Homo sapiens: one gene and its partners. The protein of the gene in region 7 purifies or fractionates together with the protein of the main gene of each other region. This does not show direct contact. Each region holds a gene or a part of one and is shown on either strand. Other genes may lie near its edges.

Region 1 (3,387 bases), on a different chromosome or scaffold from region 7:
CGGTCGTGAGCCACCACGCCTGGCCATGTTCTTGAGTAGGCTTGAATTAAAAATTAGGTTGTTTCTGCACTTTAGATTTGTGCATTTCATTGTAAATTTTACTGTAAAAGAAAGAAAGAATATTGAACTATACCTACCTGAAGAATTAGGGGGGTGAGGTGTATTGATATCTGCAACTTAACACTGAAGTGCATAAAAAATGAGATGGCTGGAGGGATAGATGAATAGGGATGTGATATAGCCAATATAGTAAAAAGCAGTAAATCTAGATGTTCCCTGTATAATGATTTAATCTTTTGCGTGTTTGAAAATTTTATAAGAGAAAAAAATGTTTTAAACTCACTGGGAGGCTGGGTGTGGTGGCTTACGCCTGTAATCCCAGTACTTTGGGAGGCCAAGCTGGGCAGATCATTTGAGGTCAGGAGTTTGAGACTAGCCTGACCAACATGGTGAAACCCCACCTCTACTAAAAATACAAAAAATTAGCCAGGCATGGTGGTGGACGCCTGTAATCCCAGCTACTCAGGAGGCTGAGGCAGGAGGATTGCTTGAACCCAGGAGGCGGAGGTTGCAGTGAGCTGAGATTGTGCCACTGCACTCCAGCCTGGGTGACAGAATGAGACCCTGTCGCAATAAATAAATAAATAAACCCACTGGGGAAAAATTGCTTTGTGTCTATTGTATTGTTAATTTGTTCTAAATTGTACTCCTTCCTGAGCCGCTGCAATAAGCTTTTTGCTGTGGAATATGACGACAGCTAGATACTGTCCCTGCCACAAGAGCTTCTGGTTATAAATAGACAAAGACTCTAATTTCTAATTGACCTCTTTTCTTTTTCAGGTTTATACATAAATTTTCGTCACCTTTATAAACAGCGCAGACGGCGCTATGGACAAAAAAAGAAAAAGATCCACTAAAAAGAAAGATTTAGATGGCTTCTTGCCAGTTTGAGCCTAATCTGATTCTTACAGTTTTACCTTCTTGAACCAATGTAAAAGTTTTTTTAATGTTAAATGATTAAATTCTCAGTGAGGCTATCTTCCTTTTCCCCAGTAACATTCCTGAATTTACTGTTATCTTATTGTAGTACTTGCATGACATGGATTCCTGATATCTGATGAGAGGTTCATTCTTGTGTATTCAGTTAATGACACCAAAAGGCTCAGCCCACCCCAACCCTATCTCATGTTCAGTCTGTCTAATACATGCCAGAGATTTTTTTTTCAAAAAGTGCTTTATCCCTACAATGTACTGACAGTTCTTACAGTTGAGATTTGTTCTTTTCAGCTATTGCTTGTGAAAAAAAGCAAGACTATGTCACTCTATAGAAGGCTGTTAAAGTGACTCAGGCAGGAATTAATTATTCTGTACCTAAGGGGTTACTTGTTTAATGGGATGGCATTGACTTTTTGAAAATCAAGTGGACTGAGTCATTGATAAAACATTTCTAAGAGTGGGGCTAGAGAACATACTTTACATCTGACATCCTTTGGCCTAACAACATCTATTATTATAGTGCTCAGCAGTGTGGGCATTGAAGAGGCGCAGAATGCTTTGAAAGAAACTAATCAGAATCTTGGAACATCATGATCATGCCATTCTTAAGTAAATCAACTATTTTCAACACTGAAGAAAAATGAAACATTATTTAGAAAACAATGAGATTACAAGTTCCAAACTCAGCCAGGAATGTGGCTCACACCTGTAATCCCAGCACTTTGGGACACCTAGGTGGGAGCATCGCTTGAAGCCAGGAGTTCAAGACCAGCTTGGGCAACGTAGTGAGACCCCTATCTCTACAAAAAATAAAAAAATTAGCTGGGTGTGATGGCACACACCTGTTGTCCCAGCTACTCAAGAAGCTGAGATGGGAGGATCCTGAGCTCAGGAGGTCAAGGCTGCAGTGAGCCGAGATTGTGCCACTGCACTGCAGCTGGGGTGACAGTGCAAGACCCTGTCTCAAACCAAACCAAACCACACACACACAAACACACATACACACACACACACACGAGGTCCAAATGGTAGCAGGGATCCAAAGGGAACACAGTATGTAGGTCAAACTGGCAGTAACAGTGTACAGCCTTTGACAAACTAGAAATATTAGAGTAGGCCAAACACACCTCCAAACTGTAAGGCTGTGCACAAACATAAAAAATGGCAGCCTTCCATCTCCTGCACTGGCTGAGTCCATTTACTTGTGTACTTGTTCTAGTGAGTGGTGGGACTGTACATTTTTGAATAGACCTCAAAAATACTTCATTCTGCTGCTGTTCAGTTGGCTTTTTAAACCTGTCTGCAGTAGGACACTGAAAACAGCAAGAACTTCGGGGTGAACACCCGCTGATCCTTTAACAAGGATTTCTGGCAGGAAACTCACAAAAAGGAGAACTGAAAATTTAGACATACAGTTGGCCATTGTAAAAAACATCAGTTTCCTCTCATACATTCCAAGTAAACCAAGTAAAATAAGTGTTGGAGTAACACTTGCATAAAAGAATTTAAGGAGTGATAGCTCTTTCTGTTCTGCCATTCCCAACATTCCTGGGGGAAAGGAGACTCAATGAGTTAATACTATTTCACTGAGCCCAAGATGGAAACTTGGTTTGACCTAAAACATCTGATTAATATAGGCTAGCTGATTTCTTAAAAATTCGTTGCATTGAAGGATATTTTGCATGTCTGTAACACCTGTCAATACTTGTTTGTATTGATTTCTGATATTCTTGCAGCTGACTACGTGTAATTGGGCAGATCAGCTTTGCAGTAGATTATGCTGCATCCTCGTGGCAAAATTCTGTATTCTTAGTGATTGTTACAAACCCCTTTATTGCTGTCTGAGAAAGTGAAAGATTGTGTATTTCTATTAAAACATTTACAATCAAAATTCTAATGACTGTGCTTAAAGATAATTTAGTCTAATGGTTCTCTGTTAGTGATAAAGACCTTTGTTCAGGCAAAATATTATGTAGCAGTTCAGCATGTTAAACCAAAAACAGTTGCTCTGGTTGAAGCCTGAGAGTTACATGGAAGGTGGTGCAAATGAAAAACACTGATGATGCAGACAAAGCCTTGAGAAGTTGCCCAAAGTCATAAAGCTAGCTGATAAATTGGAACCATAATTAACTTTGGAATCGGATCGGTGATCTGTCAGGATTACCTAGCCAGAACCTTGCTTAGGCAATGAGGCCTAATCAGTGTCAGAAATAAGGAAACCTCATGATTTATGAATCTATGCCACTTAGAAAGTTGAAATTATATTAAAGTGATAAGACAGACCAAAAGCAAACGACCTTTAGTTTCATAGTGAAACCATTTTCTAGAAAATCAAATATTTTATTTTCATTAAAAAAAAACCTTGAATAATAGGAATCATTTTACACATTA
Region 2 (3,282 bases), on a different chromosome or scaffold from region 7:
TGTAGATTCATAGAAAATTGAAGAGGGAAGAATAAACCTGGAGAGACAAGGTGATGAAAATTCAAAGAGGTAGAGGTGTCCAGGTTACCCAGCTTGTCACACTGGCAGTGCCTTGCCTCTTAAAGGTTGCTTAAGTTTCTGTGATTTATGCCAGGAGTCCTCAACCCCTGGGCCACTGACTGGTACTGGTTCATAGCCTGTTAGGAACCAGGCCACCCAGGAGGAGATGAGCCGTGGGTGAGCAAGTGAAGCTTCATTGTATTTATAGCTGCTCCCCATCACTCACATTACTGCCCAAGCTCCACCTCCTGTCAGATAACTGGCAGCATTCAATTCTCATAGGAGCATGAGCCCTATTGTGAACTGTGCATCTGAGGGATCTAGGTTGCATGCTCCTTATGAAAATCTAATGCCTGATGATCTGTCACTGTCTCCCATCACCCCCAGATAGGACCATCTAGTTGCAGGAAAACAAGCTCAGGGCTCCTACTGATTCTGCATTATGACGAGTTGTATAATTATTTCATTGTATATTATAGTAATAACAGAAGTAAAGTGCACAATGATTGCAATGTGCTTGAATCATCCCGAAACCATCCATCCACCCTGCTGGTCTGTGGAAAAATTGTCTTCTATGAAACCGATCACTGGTGTCAAAAAGGCTGGGACCACTGGGTTATGCAGTTGCCAAGCTGTTGTTCTATTTTGGGCCGACATGCCCCACTCCCCACTCATCTTAGGCTGCTTTGTGGTAAAGAAAGCAAGAGTGTTTCCTCTGAGCTCCTGGTGGGCAGTGGGTCGTGATGGAAGCTTGCCATTTCTCTTCCAGATCCTCTGGACCTTCTCCATCTACCTGGAGTCCGTGGCTATCCTTCCGCAGCTATTTATGATCAGCAAGACTGGGGAGGCCGAGACCATCACCACCCACTACCTGTTCTTCCTGGGCCTCTATCGTGCTTTGTATCTTGTCAACTGGATCTGGCGCTTCTACTTTGAGGGCTTCTTTGACCTCATTGCTGTGGTGGCCGGCGTAGTCCAGACCATCCTATACTGTGACTTCTTCTACTTGTACATTACAAAAGGTATGTTGGGTGCGACCTGCGTTGTTTCTAGAGTGACGTGTTCTTTTAGGAGTGCCCTTGCCCAGCACTCTTCTAATCTGGCACTCTCTCATAAACTGGCTCCAGAGAAACACTTTCATGATTGGCCAATAACATTCTGGATCAGGATGTTGTCTTTTTAAATATAAGAACCCTTTTTCTTTTGCAATAGCTTTTCCTAAAGTGACACATTTTCACTGTAAAAGATTCATCTGGTGTTTCAGTGAACATTAACACCAGATACCTCTCTATGCATACACAGACACATGACTTAAACTGTACATTGCTGTTCTATACACTGCTTTTATCCCCTCACATTTTTCATGTCACTAGAAATCTACATAATTTTCAGTAGCCACAGAGTGTTTCATTATGTGCATGTACCATAATTTATTTACCCAGCCCCCATTCATGGGTGGTCAGGCCGTTACTGGTTTGCTGTTAAAATCCAGTCATTAAATCAGCATCCTTGTGTATATGTGTTTTTGCATTTGTATGAACATAGGACGTGTGAACTTTACAAATATTTGATGAAAGCTATCATCCTTGTTCAGAAAAAAAAAAACATTTATGCCAGGTGCAGTGGCTCACGCCTGTAATCGAGCACTTTGGGAGGCCGAGGCGGGCGGATCATGAGGTCAGGAGATCGAGACCATCCTGGCTAACACGTGAAACCCCGTCTCTACTAAAAATACAAAAAACTTAGCCAGGCGTGGTGGTGGGCGCCTGTAGTCCCAGTTACTCGGGAGGCTGAGGCAGGAGAATGGTGTGAACCTGGGAGGCGGAGCTTGCAGTGAGCCCAGATCGCGCCACTGCACTCCAGCCTGGGTGACAGTGCGAGACTCTCTCTCTCAAAAAAAAAAAAAAAAAAGATATTTACGCAAATGCACCCAAATGCATGTATATAGTTTTGAGGGGTTCAGGAGCCCCTGAAACCCAACCACAGATCCCAGGCTAAAAATCCAGCTATACAATAAAATTCCTAATGGTGGAATTGCTAGGTAAAAAGCATATATAGGTCGGGTGCGATGGCTCACGCCTATAATCTCAGCACTTTGGGAGGCCGAGATGGGTGGATCGTCTGAGGTCAGGAGTTCAAGACTAGCCTGACCAACATGGCGAAACCCCATCTCTACTAAAAATACAAAATTAGCCGGGTGTGGTGGCACATGGCCTGTAATCCCAGCTACTTGGGGGGCTGAGGCAGGAAAATCTCTTGAACCCGGGAGGCAGAGGTTGCAGTGAGCTGATATCACGCCATTGCACTCCAGCCTAGGGAACAAGAGCAAAACTCTGTCTCAAAAAAAAAAAAAAAAAAGAAAAAAAAGAGCATATATGTCTTATCTCTTTCCTTTTGTTTTTTTTGAGACCGAGTCTCTCTCACCCAGGCTAGAATGCAGTGGCTTGCTCTCAGCTCACTGCAACCTCTGCCTCCCAAGTTCAAGCGAGTCTGCTGTCTCAGCCTCCCGAGTAGCTGAGATTACAGTCGCGCACTACCATGCCTGGCTAATTTTGTTTTGTTTTGTTTTGTTTTGAGACTGAGTCTTGCTCTGTCACACAGGCTGGAGTGCAGTGGCGCAATCTCGGCTCACTGCAACCTCCACCTTGCAGCTTCAAGTGATTCTCGTGCCTTGACCACCCTAGTAACTGGGATTACAGGTGCGCACCACCACGCCCGGCTAATTTTTGTATTTTTAATAGAGACGGGGTTTCACCTTGTTGGCCAGGCTGGTCTTGAACTCCCAACCTCGTGATCCGCACACCTCAGCCTCCCAAAGTATTGGGATTACAGGCGTGAGCCACCACGCCTAGCTTTTTTTTTTTTTTTTTTTTTTTTTTTTTTTTTTTTTTTTTTGAGACAGAGTTTTGCTCTTGTTGCCCAGGCTGGAGTGCAATGGTACAATCTTGGCTCACCGCAACCTCCACCTCCTGTGTTCAAGCGATTCTCCTGCCTCAGCCTCCTGAGTAGCTGGGATTACAGGCATGCACCACCACGCCCAGCTAATTTTTGTATTTTTAGTAGAGATGGAGTTTCTCTATGTTGGTCAGGCTGGTCTCGAACTCCCGACCTCAGGTGATCCTCCTGCCTCAGCCTCCCCAAGTGCTGGGATTACAAGCATGAGCCACTGTGCCCAGCCTAATTTTTGTATTTTTATTAGAGATGGTGTTTCACCATGTTGGC
Region 3 (2,239 bases), about 27 Mb from region 7:
CTGGCTGGGTACATCCTGGCCAATGCTGACACCATCCAGCACTTCTGCACCCAGCACGTAAGCCGCTGCCCACCTCTCCCAAGCCCCTCTGAAATGGCTGCCTCTTCTCCCCTAGCCCTTTCAGGGTCGGAGATAGGCCGCTGGTGCCTCTCTAAGCCCAACGAGTCGCTGACCCGAGCCTCTGGACCCCTGGGTCCCTCCAACCACACCCACTCCTGCAGGGCTCCCCGGCGACCTGGCTGCAGCCTGCTCTCCCTACGCTGGCCGAGATCATTCGCCTGCAGGACCCCAGTGCCATCAAGATTGAGGTGGCCACTTATGCCACCTGCTACCCTGACTTCAGGTGAGAACCTGGGGCACCTCAGGACCACTGTCACATCACTGTGGCCAAGGCCTCACAGGGCTGGCATTGGGAACCCAGATCCTGGCAGCTGCCCACGTGCCAGTCACTGTGTGAACCTCACCAGGGGCTCATTCTTGTGGCCTTCACCACAGCACTACGAGGACAATACTTCCCATTCCCGTTTCACAGAGGAGGCCTGGAGAGCTCACAGGATGTGTCCAAGGTGACACGGCTAGTTAGTGTCTGGCTGCATGGCCCACACTCTTAGCTTTACCTGACACTGCCTCTCACAGGGGAGACTGAGACCAGAGAGGCCAGCTTCACCCAGCCTGGGGGGCCTCTGCGGCCTAGGCCTATGCTCTGGGACCAGGGCTCATATTCGGGAGTGGAGGCTTAGCCCTTGGCTGCCTGAAGTTCTGGTGGGCCAGGGACATTGTTTCTTCCTGGGCTGGGTCCTCTGACATGTTAGGGTAAGTTTGAATGGGTCTTGACAGGGTTGACCCCAGCTTCGCCAAGTCCAGTCCCTGTCTGATCCATTCCACCCATTCATTCATTCACCCACCATACAAGCACCCATCTGCTCATCCACCCATTCCTTCACCCATCTGGCTATCCGTCTATCTTCTCACCCACTCATCACCTGTCTACCCATCCACCCACCCACCCACCCACCCGTCTATCCATCCATCTATTCATCCACCTACCCATGTAAGCACCCATCCACCCATCTACTCATCCATCCACCCCTCCACCCATTTAGCTATCCATCCACTCAACCACTCACCCACCCACCCATCCACCCATGCATCTACTCACTCATCCATGCTCCCATCCCTCCACCCATCTAGCTCTCATCCATCTGCTCACCCACCCACCATCCATCTACCTATGCCACCAACAATTATGGAGAAGTCTGCTAGGTGTCAGCCTCTGTTCTAGTTACCAGGATGCAATGAAGTACAAGGGAAGCCAGGTCTCAGTCCTCCCTTAAGTAGCTCATTCTGTTGAGGGCCAGCAATACTAATGACATAATCAGGCAAAGAAACAGACAATTACAAGTTGTAAATAGGGTTTAACCAAGGTTGTGAATGATAGGAGGTGCCGACTTTAGAGACAAGAAAGCCTTTTGGGGGTGGACATCTTAGCGGAGACCTAAGGGGTGGGAAGAGGCGGTCATCTCAGGGCCTGGGAAGAACATTGCAGGGGAACAGCCGGTGCGGAGGCCTGAAGCAGGCTGGGGCATGGCTGCTCTTGGGACCATCAGGTGGAGGGCATGGGTGAGGGAGAGTGAAGTGCAGCCCCCTCGTGGGCCGGGCGTTGGCTGTCGGGCCCTGTGGCACTGGCCGGGAGTGCAGGGAGCTGGTGAGTAGGGGTGTGGGTGACAGGCTGGGCTGACAGGATGCTCTCTTTGCCAGCAAAGGCCACCTGAGCGCTATCCTGGCCATCAAGGGGAACCTATCCAACAGTGAGGTCAAGCGCATCCGGAGCATCTTGGACGTCAGCATGGGGGCGCAGGAGCCCTCCCGGCCCCTATTTTCCCTTATAAAGGTTGGTTAGCTTTTCCTGTGGCCTGACCTGCCTGTGAGTGCCCAGCAAGCCTTGGGCACACCCCGCTGGGAGCTGTTAAGAGCAGCGCTGGTTCTCGGTTCCTCCCGGGTCTCCTGTGCTCTGATGCTACTTCTGCCTAGCCCTGGCGGAGGTGCAGGCCCTGTCAGCTGGAACTGGACAGACCTTGGTTTGTTTACATGTCCGATGGGGGCAGGAGCTCCCATCCTGGGCAGCCAACCAGGCAACACCAAGGACTCTTTGTAAACGATAGCTGATCGTGTGCACGCAAGGAAAGAACCAGGAGGGAGAGTGCAGCCAGGCTCAGGGATCCCCGGACACCTCTGTCCA
Region 4 (3,500 bases), on a different chromosome or scaffold from region 7:
GACTTCAGTGAAGCCTGACATTTCATAGGAGCTTAATATTTCAGAGAAAGAGCATAACTGAGAGGCAAATTATTTCCTGCTCTTATCCCTCAATCTCAAGGAAATGGCTTTCTCTCATCCCACAGTAGTTATTGTCAGAACCACTAAATCCCCACAAGGACCAAAACTAATGTCAAAGCCGCAAAACCCAAATCCTTCACAAATGAGAAAAGCAAGCCTCAGCCAGGGCCGCACAGATTCTTGGAGTGCATACTGAGTGAGCAGCAGTCGAAGCCCCAGCTTTCCCTGTGGGACGCGGGTGGAGCCAATTCCTCTCCAAGATCCTGCTGTCATGAAGAACTTGGCCGGCTTCGTTTCTCTGCTGTTGTGTGGCCCCCTGGTGGGGATGTGGAGAACTGGATGACCCTGCGCAGCTTAGCTGGTCCCGCTCCTTATTACCCAGCATGGGAAGCCGGCCACCATGTCTTTGCCCTGGAACTTGGTATTCTCCAGTTGTTGGCAGGACCAGATATCATCAAGTAGATTTAGTGTCTTCCTCCATTTGAAGTGGTCAAGGGAGATTCATTCATGTGCATTTATTCATTTAACAAGTACTGAAAACCTGCATGATATGCTGAGTAAGGATACAGTGTAAGCGAGAGACAAAAACCTTGTTTCATGGGGCTTACACCAAAGAAAGGCAATGCAGTATAAAAGAAAAAGTACTTAAAACCGAAATGCTCAATTTCTAGTTCTATCTTGGGCCACTAATTCTCTGTGTGACTTGACCAAGTTCCTTAAATTCTCAAATTCCCTAATTTCTTCTAGTTGCAACTTCTTCATTATTCTAGTTTGTACAGTAGATGATTCTCCCTCATTGTAAATACAAAAGAGGCCAGGCATGGTGGTTCACACCTGTAGTCCCAGCTACTCAGGAAGCTGAGGTGGGAGCATCACTTGAGCCCAGGAGGTGGAGGCTGTGGTGAGCTATGATCATGCCACTTAACTCTAGCCTGGGCAACAGAGAAAGACCCTGTCTCAAAAAAAAAAAAAAGTACCAGAGAGAGAAAAAAAAGCCATTCCCTCCTATAGGTAGGGTTGTTTTGTTTTGTCTCTTGGGATATCTTAGAATAACAGTCTGTATACTTTAAACCAGTATGTCTCAACTAAGGGTGATTTTGTCTCCCAGGGTACATTTGGCAATGTCTGAGGTCATTTTCAATTGTTACAGCTTGGAGAGTGCTGCTGACGTCTTGTGGGTAGAGGCCAGGGATGCTGCGAAACACCCCATCATGCACAGGACAGCCACCCCCCCCAAAAAATAATTATTCAACCCAAAATGCTGTTGAGAGAAACCCTGCATTAAACTTTGAAAATATCCATCTTTTCCCCTCATTTCTCCATCAATCTCACCCAGAAGCTAAGACACGTGATTCCAAAATGAAGGGAATAGAGCTTTGGGAGTCACGCAGCTATAAAACATGCTTTGTATTTCTACACAAATTATTTCATCACTGTAGGTCATAGTGCCCTCTTCTGAAAGGTGGGGCTGGTGACCACCAACTGGAATGTTGTGAGAAGGACTTAACTAAAAGGACTGCCCTCAGCTGACCCGCAGCTCCTAGAGGAAAGCCGTATGGTGGCTATCTCTTGAACAGTGGCTTGATTCGGAATCTCTTGCCATCCCCTTACCCCCTTATTCTACTGCTGTGAAGGAGAGAAACGTCTTTTGTCTTCTTTGTTATGTGGGAAGCAGAATTTCTCAGGGTACCTTTCTATGCCTTTCCTTAAGTCTTCACCATTGCTATCATCACCACCTTTTAATTACTGACCTTTTTCTTCCTTTTTCCAGAAGTGCATGTGGAACCTCATAAGAAGCAGCTACATGTGACCCTGGCTTACCACTTCCAAGCCAGCCACCTACCCACCCTAGAGAAACTGGCCCAGAACATTGACGTCAAGCTAGGGTGTGACTGGGTGGCTACCATATTTTCTCGGGATATCCGATTTGCTAACCATGAGGTAATGTCTCACTGTGGTTCCAGAAGCTACCAGGTGCAGGGATGCAATCAGAATCAGCAGCTCGCTGCTGCAGGGAGATGGGTACCTACAGGGGAAAAATGGAGCAAGCACCTAACAGAGAGTCCGTTGGCTCAGGATTGTGTCCAGCCTCTGCTTGCCTCACTGGGAGGCTTCCAGCTTGCCTCCCTCCTCTCTGGGTCACAAGTGGTTCATCTGGGTAACATCCCCCTAGTTCTGTCTCCCCTGCCAATCCAACTCCAGCAAAAAAGAAATGAAATGGGAGAGAATAAATAAAAAATATATTGGAAAATTTTTAATATTATATAAATTTATGGTGTTAATGGAAGACATCATTTTGACCTTAGGTGAGTTGAAGAACATATAAATACCAAAGAAAACAAAACAAAAAACAAAAACACTTGCAAAGACATAATCAACAGATATTTGCTGTGTATCTGTATCATGCAAAGTACCATGGAGCATACTGGAATTTTTAAATGTTGTCCTGTCCTCAAGGAGCTTTGAGAACAGACACACATGAAAAGAAAACTCAAGTCACCTCTTGTGAGAGTTTCTGCACATCCCAGTGGGAGGCCTGAGTGAGAAAACTGAATTCCATCACAAGAAGAAAGATTGGTACACCCCTAGCACCCTTCCTTTGAGGGAATCAACATTGCCTTCTAGACAAGTATGTGACATCTTGGAAGCATAATATTGCCTTTTTTTTTTTTTTTTAAATGGAGTTTCATTCCTTGTTGCCCAGGCTGGAGTGCAATGGCACGATCTTGGCTCACTGCAACCCCTGCCCCTGGGGTTCAAGCGATTCTCCTGCCTCAGCCTCCCTAGTAGCTGGGATTACAGGCACCCGCCACCACACTGGGCTAATTTTTTGTATTTTTAGTAGTGCCGGGGTTTCACTGTGTTGGCCAGACTGGTCTTGATCTCAGGTGATCTGCACGCCTCGGTGTCTCAAAGTGCTGGGATTACAAGCGTGAGCCGCAGCACCTGGCCAATAGTGTCTTTTTCTATCCTGAAGGAGAAGCTGAGACACAAAAAACATTAGTGTCTTAGTAATTTAGGGCTAGAGATGAAGCAAGAGCCCATGTATTTTGACCAATAAAGAAGGGCAACCTGTCTGAAACAAAACTACATCATAGCCAGGCATGGTGGCTGTCACCTATGATCCCAGCACTTTGGGAGGCTGAGGCAGGAGTATTGCTTGAGACCAGGAGTTCCAAACCAGCCTGGGCAGCATAGTGAGACTGTATCTCTACCCACCCACAAAAGACCTCATCGTTTGTTAAAAATGTGCCTTCCAACTTAACTACATTTATTAAGCAATACTTATATTTGTTTCCCAATTTTTCAAACAGCCAAAGAACTGGTATTTTTGTTAGTTTACATAGCCTTTTAACATCTCTTTTAGACTTCTTTAAAAAACAAAACATGAAAAACAGTTAGAACCCCAGGGCTGGGAGCAGGCAAGCTCATTGTTTTGG
Region 5 (2,242 bases), on a different chromosome or scaffold from region 7:
AGGGCTCAGCAGTCAGCCTGGGCGGGTCACAGTTCCGATACCCTCCAGGCTGTCTGGGAGGCGGCCTGGCTGTGGGACCAGTTCTCATGTGAAGCAATGAAGCCACTCTGAGCTTGGCCCCCTGCCCTGGCATGGGCACTGGGCTGCCTGTGTGAAACTCTTGTTTCTCCAGGTGCAAGACAAACCTGGCACTCTTTCTGGCTTCTCCATTCACTTGCCGGGGGCAGGTGGCCAAGCCTGGTTTCATCTCCTTGGGGGGGAATGGAATACTCTCCACATTCAACCCAAAAACAGCCCCAGCAAAGGGCTGACATGGGAGGGAGAGGGGCAGGGTGGCGCCACGCACCCACGGGCACCCAATGCTTTGACGCCGAGACCCAAGCATCTCTCTCAGACATCCCTTCTCATACCAGAAACAGAGCCCACGTATACCAGTCAGACCTGCAGTCAGGCCCATTCACGAGTCAGGCCCATTCACCAGTCAGAAACCACACAGCCACTTATTTGAACAGGGGAAGTTTAATATAAAGATGAACTCTACTCGGAGCATAGAGTTTAAAAAGAGTTCTACACAACACCCTAGGGATGAGGAAGAATGCCTCAGGGAAGAAAGCACAGAAAAGGAGGTGCCCTCCCGAGGCTGGGACTGAGACCTCCTCGCTGGAGAAGGTGTGGGAGGCCCCTGAGGGTGAAGTTCCCCGGGTTGCTCGAGCCAGAGTCTGCACAGTCATAGGGCAAGCAGAAAATTCTTTCGAGAGGGTGGGCGCTCACAGGGAATCGGGAAGCAGAGCCCACCTGCCTACACCTGAAAGGCCACAGCCGGTGCTGGGACCTCTCTGAGGTCTGCAGACTCCAGGCAGAGCACTCCTGGCAGCTGTGCAGCAGGAGCAGGAAGGAAACGACATGAAAGCCCCTTTCTCCCCAGTGTCCCAGTTCAACACCGTGCACGCTACCAAGGAGAAACGGCGCACGGGCCCCACCCACGACTGCAGAGCAGGCAGGGGAGGGGGATCTAGAGCTGAAAGGCAATACATGGATAACGCGCACGCCCCACTCCCACTTTTATTTAGCAAGAGTAAATGCAGCCTAATGACAGGGCGTGGGAAGACCTCCTGCTCACCAGTGTGGGCAGAGTGTAGCGTGGCCTGGGCTCCTAATACAGGTAAATTGTCTCCAAAGGACTAGTAAAGGTGACTGGGTCATCCTCCTGCCCCAGGGACACTGATTAGAGAAAATCCGTCTGTGCTGGCAATACGGCAGTGCTGGACACTCGGAATTCCCTTGAAGGCAAAAGCAAGGAACAGAGCGTGATTAGGTACTGGACACCTGCCAAGTGCTGGGCTCTCTCCAGTTTACAGATGAGGAAACTGAGGCTCCTCGAGTTGGAGCTGGGATGCCAGCCCCCATGGACCTGGCAGAACACGCTCTTGACAGCCCCACAGGGCTTCTCCCTAGGGCGTGCCCTTAGAAGATTCCAGGCAGCAGGCGGTAAGGCACTGCGGCGGTGTAGCGCTCCCAGTCCCGGCCGTACTTGCTGGCGCAGCGGTGCTCGTCCCGGAGGCAGCGGTGGGTCAGCAGGATGGCCATGTAGATGATGTAGAAGTAGGGCAGCAGGTGGCCGCCGCCACAGGCCAGGCAGTAGGCCAGGCTGCCCATCAGGTCGCCGACGTAGTTGAAGTGGCGGGCCACGCCCCAGAAGCCCGACACCAGCAGCTTGCTGTGGTGCCTCTGCCCATCGGCGGATGTGTAGGAGCACTCGATGACCTTGGGCTTCCTGCCCCAGATGAGGCAGCGCCCATCCGTGCGGCGGAACAGGTCCTTCTGGTGGTTGGCCACCCGGAAGATGTAGTAGCCCACCAGGCCCAGCAGCAGGACGCCCACGGCGTGCGGGGTGGACAGCTGCACGGGGTGGTACACCAAGTACAGACCCTGGGGGGCGAGGGGGAAGGGGTCAAGCGGTGCTTTGCCCAGGGAGAGGACAGGAGTGTGGGCTCGGGGGCCCAGCGGCCTGGGGTCAAACCCCAGCTCTGCCTCTGACACACGCCTTGCCTCCGTGTTCTCTTCTGTGAATAAAAGCACCAACCTTGAGGGCTGTTGTGGTCATTAAATGAGTAACTCTACCTGCCTTCTACCTGTCTGTGTGTGTATGTGTGTGTGTATATATACCCCCTATATATATGACATATAGCATAAACATCAAATATGTAACAGTATTAAAAATATAATCTGAATTTAATATTGT
Region 6 (3,500 bases), on a different chromosome or scaffold from region 7:
CTAGTAGTATGTGGTTCCTGGAAGCCAAGGGAAAGGAGATCTTGGTGAGTCATCAGCAGGATCAGGGGCTGCATGCAGAGGTCAGATGACACAAGGATTGTAATTTCCAAGAAGTGGTGGTGTTGGAGAAGGGTGCTGTGCATTGAAGGAGTGAAGGGCTGATTTGGAAGTAAAGACTTCCAAGTGTAAACATTATTTAAGAAATGTATCTTGACTGACAGGAGAGGAAGGGTATTCTATTGGGAGTACATTTAAATAATTTTTTCACACTCATTTAGAAGTTCACATGTAGAGTAGTTCTGGGAGTGGTTCAGACATATCAGCAATGCCAACCATGACCTATTTCTCTTTGTTCTTCTGCTGTGCCACCTCTATAGCTTCTCAGCTGTTGTCCTTAGGCTGGTACTCTTCTGATTTCAAATGGTTCACATCGTGTTTTAATGCAGGACTCTGAGTGTAACCAAGTTAGTCACCATTCTGAAGCAGTGAATAGTTTTTAGCAAACACCTAGATACTCTAGTCCAAAGCTACCTTTATTTCTTAGTTGAATTACTGGGATAATCTTGTCTCCCTGATACCTTTTTTCCCCTTGTAAAGTTAGTTAGCCACACAGCAGCCAAAGTGATCTTTTTTTTCACAGATAATAACATACTCCTGTTCAAAACAACATTGCTTTACATCCAGAACGTAATCCAGAGTTCTTCCCGTGGCCTTTGAGGTCCTATGTGTGGTCCCTGATAGCCACTTGACTATTGTTTCTTGCCACTCTTCCTCTTGCTCACTCTGTTCCAGCCACACTCCTTGCTGGTCTTTAGATATGCTGAGCACATTCCTACCTTTGGGTCTTTGCATTTGCTTATTTCCTTCTAATTAGAACACTCTTCTCCCAGTTCCAGGGTTTCCATGGCTCCCTTCCTCACTTTATTCAGGCCTTTGCTAAACGAAACTCTACAGAGACGGTCTCCAGGCTTTTCCATCCAAATAGCATCTATTGTCATCTTCTCACCTTGTCTTGCTTCAGTTTTCTTCATAGGTTAATCTGTTTGTATATCTCAATAGAATATATCTCCCATACGTGCAGGGACTTGATCTGTTTTGTTGATCTCAGTATAACTAATATTTGTTGAATTGAGTTAAATTAACTCAATTTGATTGAGTTATTTATTTGATGATAATGAAAAGAAATTGTTGATACAGCTGAATCTCATGAAAGTGTATGTGTGTGTTTTTTCTCTTCAATGCAGAAAACCAACCTCATAGCAAACCATTGCCCTCAGATATTGCAGTAATCATGTACACAAGTGGATCCACAGGACTTCCAAAGGGAGTCATGATCTCACATAGTAACATTATTGCTGGTATAACTGGGATGGCAGAAAGGATTCCAGAACTAGGGTATGTCATAGTAAAGTAACATTGAGTAGTTAAGTATTTATGTCTGTTATAATGTTAGCATTTGTGTCATTTTATTAATATATGGCTAAATTAGTCCCTCAGAGTCTGTTTGTAGTAGGCATTTCCTTAAAAAATAAAAAAGGACATTAAAATTAATGGCAAAATAGTTATAGTTGTGAGGTTGAAAATATATCATATAGATATATTTTAAAAAGTACAGAACTTAAATTTGTATAGTTGTAAATCCTTTGTTTTAATCAGCTTGTATTTGCTGCTGTAGTTTTTTTTATATCTAAATACAATTCAGGTGAACAGGTAACTTAATTTATCCACTAAGTATTTGTTGAGCTTCAGTATTTGGTCTCTGATTTTTCTTGTTAATACAAACTCCAGTGGTAGCAGTGGAAGGTAGAGTGGAGTGGGGAAGAGACTGATGGAGGAAACCAGATGGAAGTTTGAGGGACTGTCAAGGAAACATTGCCAGAGATGCAATTGGTATTCTGATGACCGATAGGGTACAGTGGTTGGATATTTTTGATGCTTTTATGCACAGAAATTACAAACATACACGCACACACACACTCACGTAATTGCTATGGTACTGAACTTGGGGATGGAGGAATGTCTCTTACGTATGCATACATTTCAGAAAAAATTAAGTGCAACAATTTTCTTACAGGTTTGCCTCAGTTACCTTCTATATTTTGGTTATGGGGGCAGCTCTTGAAGTATATACAAATACTTACACATTTTCTGTATATTAAGATCTAATTTATTATGTAATCCAATTCCCACAACAAGAGTCTTATCTGTAAAATTTCTGGCAGATAGTTGTGGATTCTACTTTAACTCTTCTGGTTGGCAACCCACTAGATGTAAAGACCATTTCCTCCTTGGATGATTTCTTCTGTTCTTCAAAAGAACCCTGTATTATTATTTGTTTAAGCCACTGTTTCTTGTGCCTCAGTACTTTGCTTCAGCAACGCTTATAATTCCTGAGTGCTTTTAAGTAGGACGGGAAACAGCATTCCTTCCTGCAAGTGTGCGCCTCCTTGCTTTTGGGTTGAGCTGTAATTCTTTTTCCCTCCCATCCCCAGCATCTGCCTATCCTCTGTTTTCACCTGTCTCTCTCTCTCTCTCACAAACACATACACACTTGACCAGCAAATTGATGCCCTGGGGCCCTTCCATGTGCCTTCAAGCTTGCTCCCATTATAGGGCACTTTTGGCATAGACGACACCTGACTTTTGTTTCTGACGTCTCCCTTTTCTTTTAGAGAGGAAGATGTCTACATTGGATATTTGCCTCTGGCCCATGTTCTAGAATTAAGTGCTGAGCTTGTCTGTCTTTCTCACGGATGCCGCATTGGTTACTCTTCACCACAGACTTTAGCAGATCAGGTAAGTTCAGTGTCTGTGACTTGAAATACTAAAAAATCATAGTGAATTGTAATGCATTTTTTTCAGTCAGTATGACAGTATATTGCGAGAGCGATGGTTCATTTTAAAATGAGCTTTAGCCTTTTAAGTGCTTCTTAGACTGTAAGTACATTAAAATAATTTATAATAGGCTTTTTGATCTAAGAATACCATTGAATTTTAAAAATAAGGATCACTTTATATGGATCACTTTTTCTTATTTTGTAGTCTTCAAAAATTAAAAAAGGAAGCAAAGGGGATACATCCATGTTGAAACCAACACTGATGGCAGCAGTTCCGGTAAGAAGTGACCCTTATTTAATATTGAGTATTAAAGAAGTATCACCCGCTACAAAGCATTAGTGCTAGTGAAAAATATATTGTTGACAAGGTAGTTTATGTAGGATTTATTCCTTATTGATTATAAATATTGCCTTAGGCGCTATGGGATTTCTTCAGTCTTGTTTTAGCTTGCTTTCTTATTTACTAAGCACTCAACTTAATTTCAGCTTCTGTGTGTAATTATCAACTTGTTTGCCTAAATACCTTCTTGTTAAAATAAAAATTATTTTCATGATATCTGTTGGTGAATTCATTGACACTTGAAGCCTATTGAGAGCTAGGAGGGAAAGTGTGAGATCACCTCCTTTTAAGCAAGCTGTATAGTTACCTCCTGAGTCCTCAGG
Region 7 (3,500 bases):
CCATCTTCCCCAACCCCAGGCTAGGGGTGCACAGGTCTGTGTCACAGGACCCTCCCACTCTAAATGGCCCTAGCAAGTCCTGAGTGTGAGGCAGTGCCAGAGCAGGGGAGAAATAGAGCAAGCCAGGGTCCTGTCCTCTAAGAACCCATCGAATCGAAGAGCTGATGGGTATAAAGGGAAACCAGCATGAGGTGGCCTGTGAGGTATCAGATGAATGTTGAAGTGCTATGGGTTGGCAGGAGGGTGGTAGAAGAGATGGCCTCACCCAGCCTACTGGAACTGCTTTCCAGCTTACCAAGCATTTTCTCATCATTAAGTCATACAATTGTCACAAAAGCCATCTACCTTGAGCAGAGTTGGTTTTACCATCGCCTCCTTCCCCAGACCTGAAGATGCAGCTGAAGCCCACTTGTCCAAGGCCAAATAACCTGAAATAACCCGTAAGGGACAGAGATGGGCATGGGACCTTCATTATCGAGCCCATGGGCTGCAGTGATTGTGGGCTGTGCTTAGGGCAGGCTCAGAAGAGCAGACAGGAAGCAAGGGGAACAGACACATTTCACATCAGGTGTCAGTTTGTGCATAATTAAACCCAACAGGCTACTGTTTTTTTAACAGCGTAATCTGATAATTGATACACGTATTGATTGGAGCCATTGACCACTATGCTGTAAAGATCAGGAGGAGAAAATTTAGAGGAGAATTTAACATTTGCTGTGCGCTGGGAGGTCATACCATGGAATGGCAAAAAGCTTGGGTCTTTTATTGGGGAAATCACTGAATCTCTCTGAGCCTCAGTTTTTCTTATTTGTAAAATGAGGATAATAGCACCTGCCTTATATTTTTGTGGGTTAAGTAGGGTAATACATACAGAGAGTCCTTTACAAATTATGCTGTTATCATTATCATTATTCATGTGATTTACCAAAAACTTGGATGCAATGCTGGGGAACAGTAATAATAAGGATGATGATAATAACCATAATAATCCCATTTTCTAAGCACATGCTGCATCTTGGGTACCATGACAGACTTTGGGGCAGGACTGTGAGCCGCCCCTGGCCTTAACGGGTGCCTAGTCAGTAGGGGAAGCCCAGTGTGCTCTGGGAGCCCATGAAGAAGCCCCCAGCCTGGCATGGGGATGAGGAGGACAGAGGTACATCCACCCCTGTATTCATCAAGTCTTTCCTGAACATCCATGAAAGGTCAGGCCCTATATCAGGACACAGAACATCCCAGATGGAGACATCGGCAGAGGTGGCAGCTGCCCATCTCCTTGCCTTGCCGAGGGACAGACACCTCTTTTTATTTTGTGTTGAGCATGCCTCACTCTGATTGACAGCTGCTTGCCGGGAAGCAGGCTGGATGGGAAGCGAGAGTTCATTCCAGTGGTATCTAGGAGAGAAGGTCAGTAAAGTGGGGAAGGGGCTTGTCCTGGACTCAAGGAGAGTATATGTTTAAGATCCTGGCATATAGTAGGTGCTCAGTAAGTGGGGGCCCTTACTGTCTCTTATGGATGAGGTGGACCGTTTTCACTTTCGGTCCTGTCACCATTCCAAGGGGAAGCAGAACTTGGTGGAGGGTTTGGTTTGGCCTGGGTATAGTGAACAGAGGAGGCTTCTATGTAGACATGTCACAGGATAGAGTCAGAAAGCTTTTCTAGACAGGGAACTTTTCCCAAAAGACTTTTACAGGAAGAATCATCCTTCCTGTGTTTGTGTCTGCTCCTTATGCTGTCACTGAAGGGGCTTGCAGGGGGTGAGGGAGCAAATGTGAGCCAAAGTGCTAGCAGCACATAGGTTCAGGTCTGGAGCTGGATGGCATCTAGCTGTCCCTTTAGGGTCCAAGGTACAGGCAGAAGTTGATGGTACAGCTGCGTTTGCTAGGATGCCTTAGTGCAGTGCTCCTCAAACTCTGTTGTCCGTGCAAATCACCTTGTCTGATTCCTCTGTGGCCAGGCCTGAGATTTTGAGGCATCTAACAAGCCTCAAATGATGGTGATGATGCTGGCCTGCAGACCACACTTGAGGAGGAAGACAGCGGAGACTGCTCCTGCCCACACCTACTCAGCACTGTCTGTTTGTGTGTGTGTGTGTGTACGTGTGCATGCGTGCGTGTGTGTGTGTGTGCTGATCTGACGCCTAGGCTTTCTTTGGCCACCAGAGTCTGCTCAGCCTGGACCTGGGAGGCAGGCAAGAAGCGCCAAAGCAGCCGGTAGCTGGGAGCCTCAGTTGCCCACAGCAGTACTGTCCTCAGGAACACATTTGTTATTGGCTTTCTTCCCTCCTTGGAAACTGCTCGCATGCACAGCCTTGTCTCAGATTCTGCTCCTGGAGAAGTCAACAACAAATGTCAGTTACAAAACCTGACCTTCTAGGCAGAAGGGGAGTTTATTGGAAGCCTATCAGGAGGTTCAAAGAGTACATTTAGAAACCAGACAAGAACCAGGAGAATCCCTGGAGAGCCCAGGAGCAGGAAACCCAGTAGCCAGGACATACTGGCCAGGGGCTGCCTACACTCTGCTGGGGAGGCGCTGCTGGTCTGATCAGTCCTCACCTTCGCTCTGTCCTTGTGCCTCCGTTTGATGGTGCACTTGGCTGAGCCTGTGTCACGGGTCCATGCCTTGACCTCCAGAGAGCAGAGAGAAGGAGAACATGTACTTCTCAGATATCCATTGAGGGGTGGGACACAGACTTCCAACAGTTTCCGTATTCCCAATAGGGGAATTACATTTTTTAAATTTTCTTTTGAGATGGAGTCTCACTCTGTTACTCAGGCTGGAGTGCAGTGGTGCAATCTCAGCTCACTGCAACCTCCACCTCCTGGGTTCAAGCGATCCTTGTGCCTCAGCCACCCGAGTAGCTGGAATTACAGGCACGTGCCACCACACCTGGCTAATTTTTGTATTTTTGGTAGAGATGGGGTTTCGCCATGGTAGCTAGGCTGATCTTGAACTCCTGACCTCAAGGGCTACGGCCTCCCAAAGTGCTGGGATTACAGGGGTGAGCCACCGCACCTGACCAGGGGAATTACCTTTAAACAGGAAGCCTGGGTGGGCTGCTGAGTAGACTCCCCCTCTCCCCGACTAAAAAACGTTTAGCACCAGGTACAAATACACCAGGTTGTGGGGTTGAAAAAGACATTGCTGACAAAAATGAGGAGTTGTGGGCTCACTCAGTGAACTCACAGCATCCTTGCCCTCCAGGGCTGGAGTCCTGAACTGAAAACACCTGGGGCAGCAGAGGGGTGGGGGGTAGTGTCCTTAGCATCCCAAAGTTCCTTTAGGGCAATGTGCACTTAAAGGAGTTTTCTCCACTCATTCAGTAAACAAAGTAATTTTGCTTTCAGTTGCTCTAGGAAACTTCCTTCTTCTCAGGGACTGAAATTTAGTAGCTGAACATCCTAACAAAGAAACAGCCAGAAAATAGCCCCAGGCATGAATGGGCTCTAAATCATCATTCCATTAAGTAACCATTGTTCTGACTTCCCCTTGCCTGTTC

Evidence for each region.
Region 1: the proteins of ESRRB (region 7) and HACD3 purify together in Homo sapiens (affinity purification with mass spectrometry, with the first as the bait; one large-scale study listed by BioGRID). This does not show direct contact.
Region 2: the proteins of ESRRB (region 7) and KDELR2 purify together in Homo sapiens (affinity purification with mass spectrometry, with the first as the bait; one large-scale study listed by BioGRID). This does not show direct contact.
Region 3: the proteins of ESRRB (region 7) and TNFAIP2 purify together in Homo sapiens (affinity purification with mass spectrometry, with the first as the bait; one large-scale study listed by BioGRID). This does not show direct contact.
Region 4: the proteins of ESRRB (region 7) and UBASH3B purify together in Homo sapiens (affinity purification with mass spectrometry, with the first as the bait; one large-scale study listed by BioGRID). This does not show direct contact.
Region 5: the proteins of ESRRB (region 7) and DHCR7 purify together in Homo sapiens (affinity purification with mass spectrometry, with the first as the bait; one large-scale study listed by BioGRID). This does not show direct contact.
Region 6: the proteins of ESRRB (region 7) and ACSL3 purify together in Homo sapiens (affinity purification with mass spectrometry, with the first as the bait; one large-scale study listed by BioGRID). This does not show direct contact.

What each region holds. Positions count from the first base shown.
Region 1 is NC_000015.10:65,575,463-65,578,849, forward strand, and holds the end of HACD3 (very-long-chain (3R)-3-hydroxyacyl-CoA dehydratase 3), read left to right. Parts: intron 1-840; coding exon 841-917; 3' UTR 918-2,887; downstream 2,888-3,387. UniProt on the Homo sapiens protein: Catalyzes the third of the four reactions of the long-chain fatty acids elongation cycle. This endoplasmic reticulum-bound enzymatic process, allows the addition of two carbons to the chain of long- and very long-chain fatty acids/VLCFAs per cycle.
Region 2 is NC_000007.14:6,463,871-6,467,152, reverse strand, and holds part of KDELR2 (ER lumen protein-retaining receptor 2), read left to right. Parts: intron 1-829; coding exon 830-1,082; intron 1,083-3,282. UniProt on the Homo sapiens protein: Membrane receptor that binds the K-D-E-L sequence motif in the C-terminal part of endoplasmic reticulum resident proteins and maintains their localization in that compartment by participating to their vesicle-mediated recycling back from the Golgi.
Region 3 is NC_000014.9:103,133,461-103,135,699, forward strand, and holds part of TNFAIP2 (tumor necrosis factor alpha-induced protein 2), read left to right. Parts: coding exon 1-57; intron 58-221; coding exon 222-343; intron 344-1,758; coding exon 1,759-1,900; 3' UTR 1,901-2,239. UniProt on the Homo sapiens protein: May play a role as a mediator of inflammation and angiogenesis.
Region 4 is NC_000011.10:122,781,222-122,784,721, forward strand, and holds part of UBASH3B (ubiquitin-associated and SH3 domain-containing protein B), read left to right. Parts: intron 1-1,831; coding exon 1,832-2,001; intron 2,002-3,500. UniProt on the Homo sapiens protein: Interferes with CBL-mediated down-regulation and degradation of receptor-type tyrosine kinases. Promotes accumulation of activated target receptors, such as T-cell receptors and EGFR, on the cell surface.
Region 5 is NC_000011.10:71,433,911-71,436,152, forward strand, and holds the end of DHCR7 (7-dehydrocholesterol reductase), read right to left. Parts: intron 2,064-2,242; coding exon of another isoform or gene 1,930-2,063; coding exon 1,465-1,929; 3' UTR 1,281-1,464; coding exon of another isoform or gene 1,200-1,280; 3' UTR 501-1,199; downstream 1-500. UniProt on the Homo sapiens protein: Oxidoreductase that catalyzes the last step of the cholesterol synthesis pathway, which transforms cholesta-5,7-dien-3beta-ol (7-dehydrocholesterol,7-DHC) into cholesterol by reducing the C7-C8 double bond of its sterol core.
Region 6 is NC_000002.12:222,920,036-222,923,535, forward strand, and holds part of ACSL3 (fatty acid CoA ligase Acsl3), read left to right. Parts: intron 1-1,244; coding exon 1,245-1,395; intron 1,396-2,672; coding exon 2,673-2,796; intron 2,797-3,042; coding exon 3,043-3,114; intron 3,115-3,500. UniProt on the Homo sapiens protein: Acyl-CoA synthetases (ACSL) activates long-chain fatty acids for both synthesis of cellular lipids, and degradation via beta-oxidation.
Region 7 is NC_000014.9:76,477,137-76,480,636, forward strand, and holds part of ESRRB (steroid hormone receptor ERR2), read left to right. Parts: intron 1-3,500.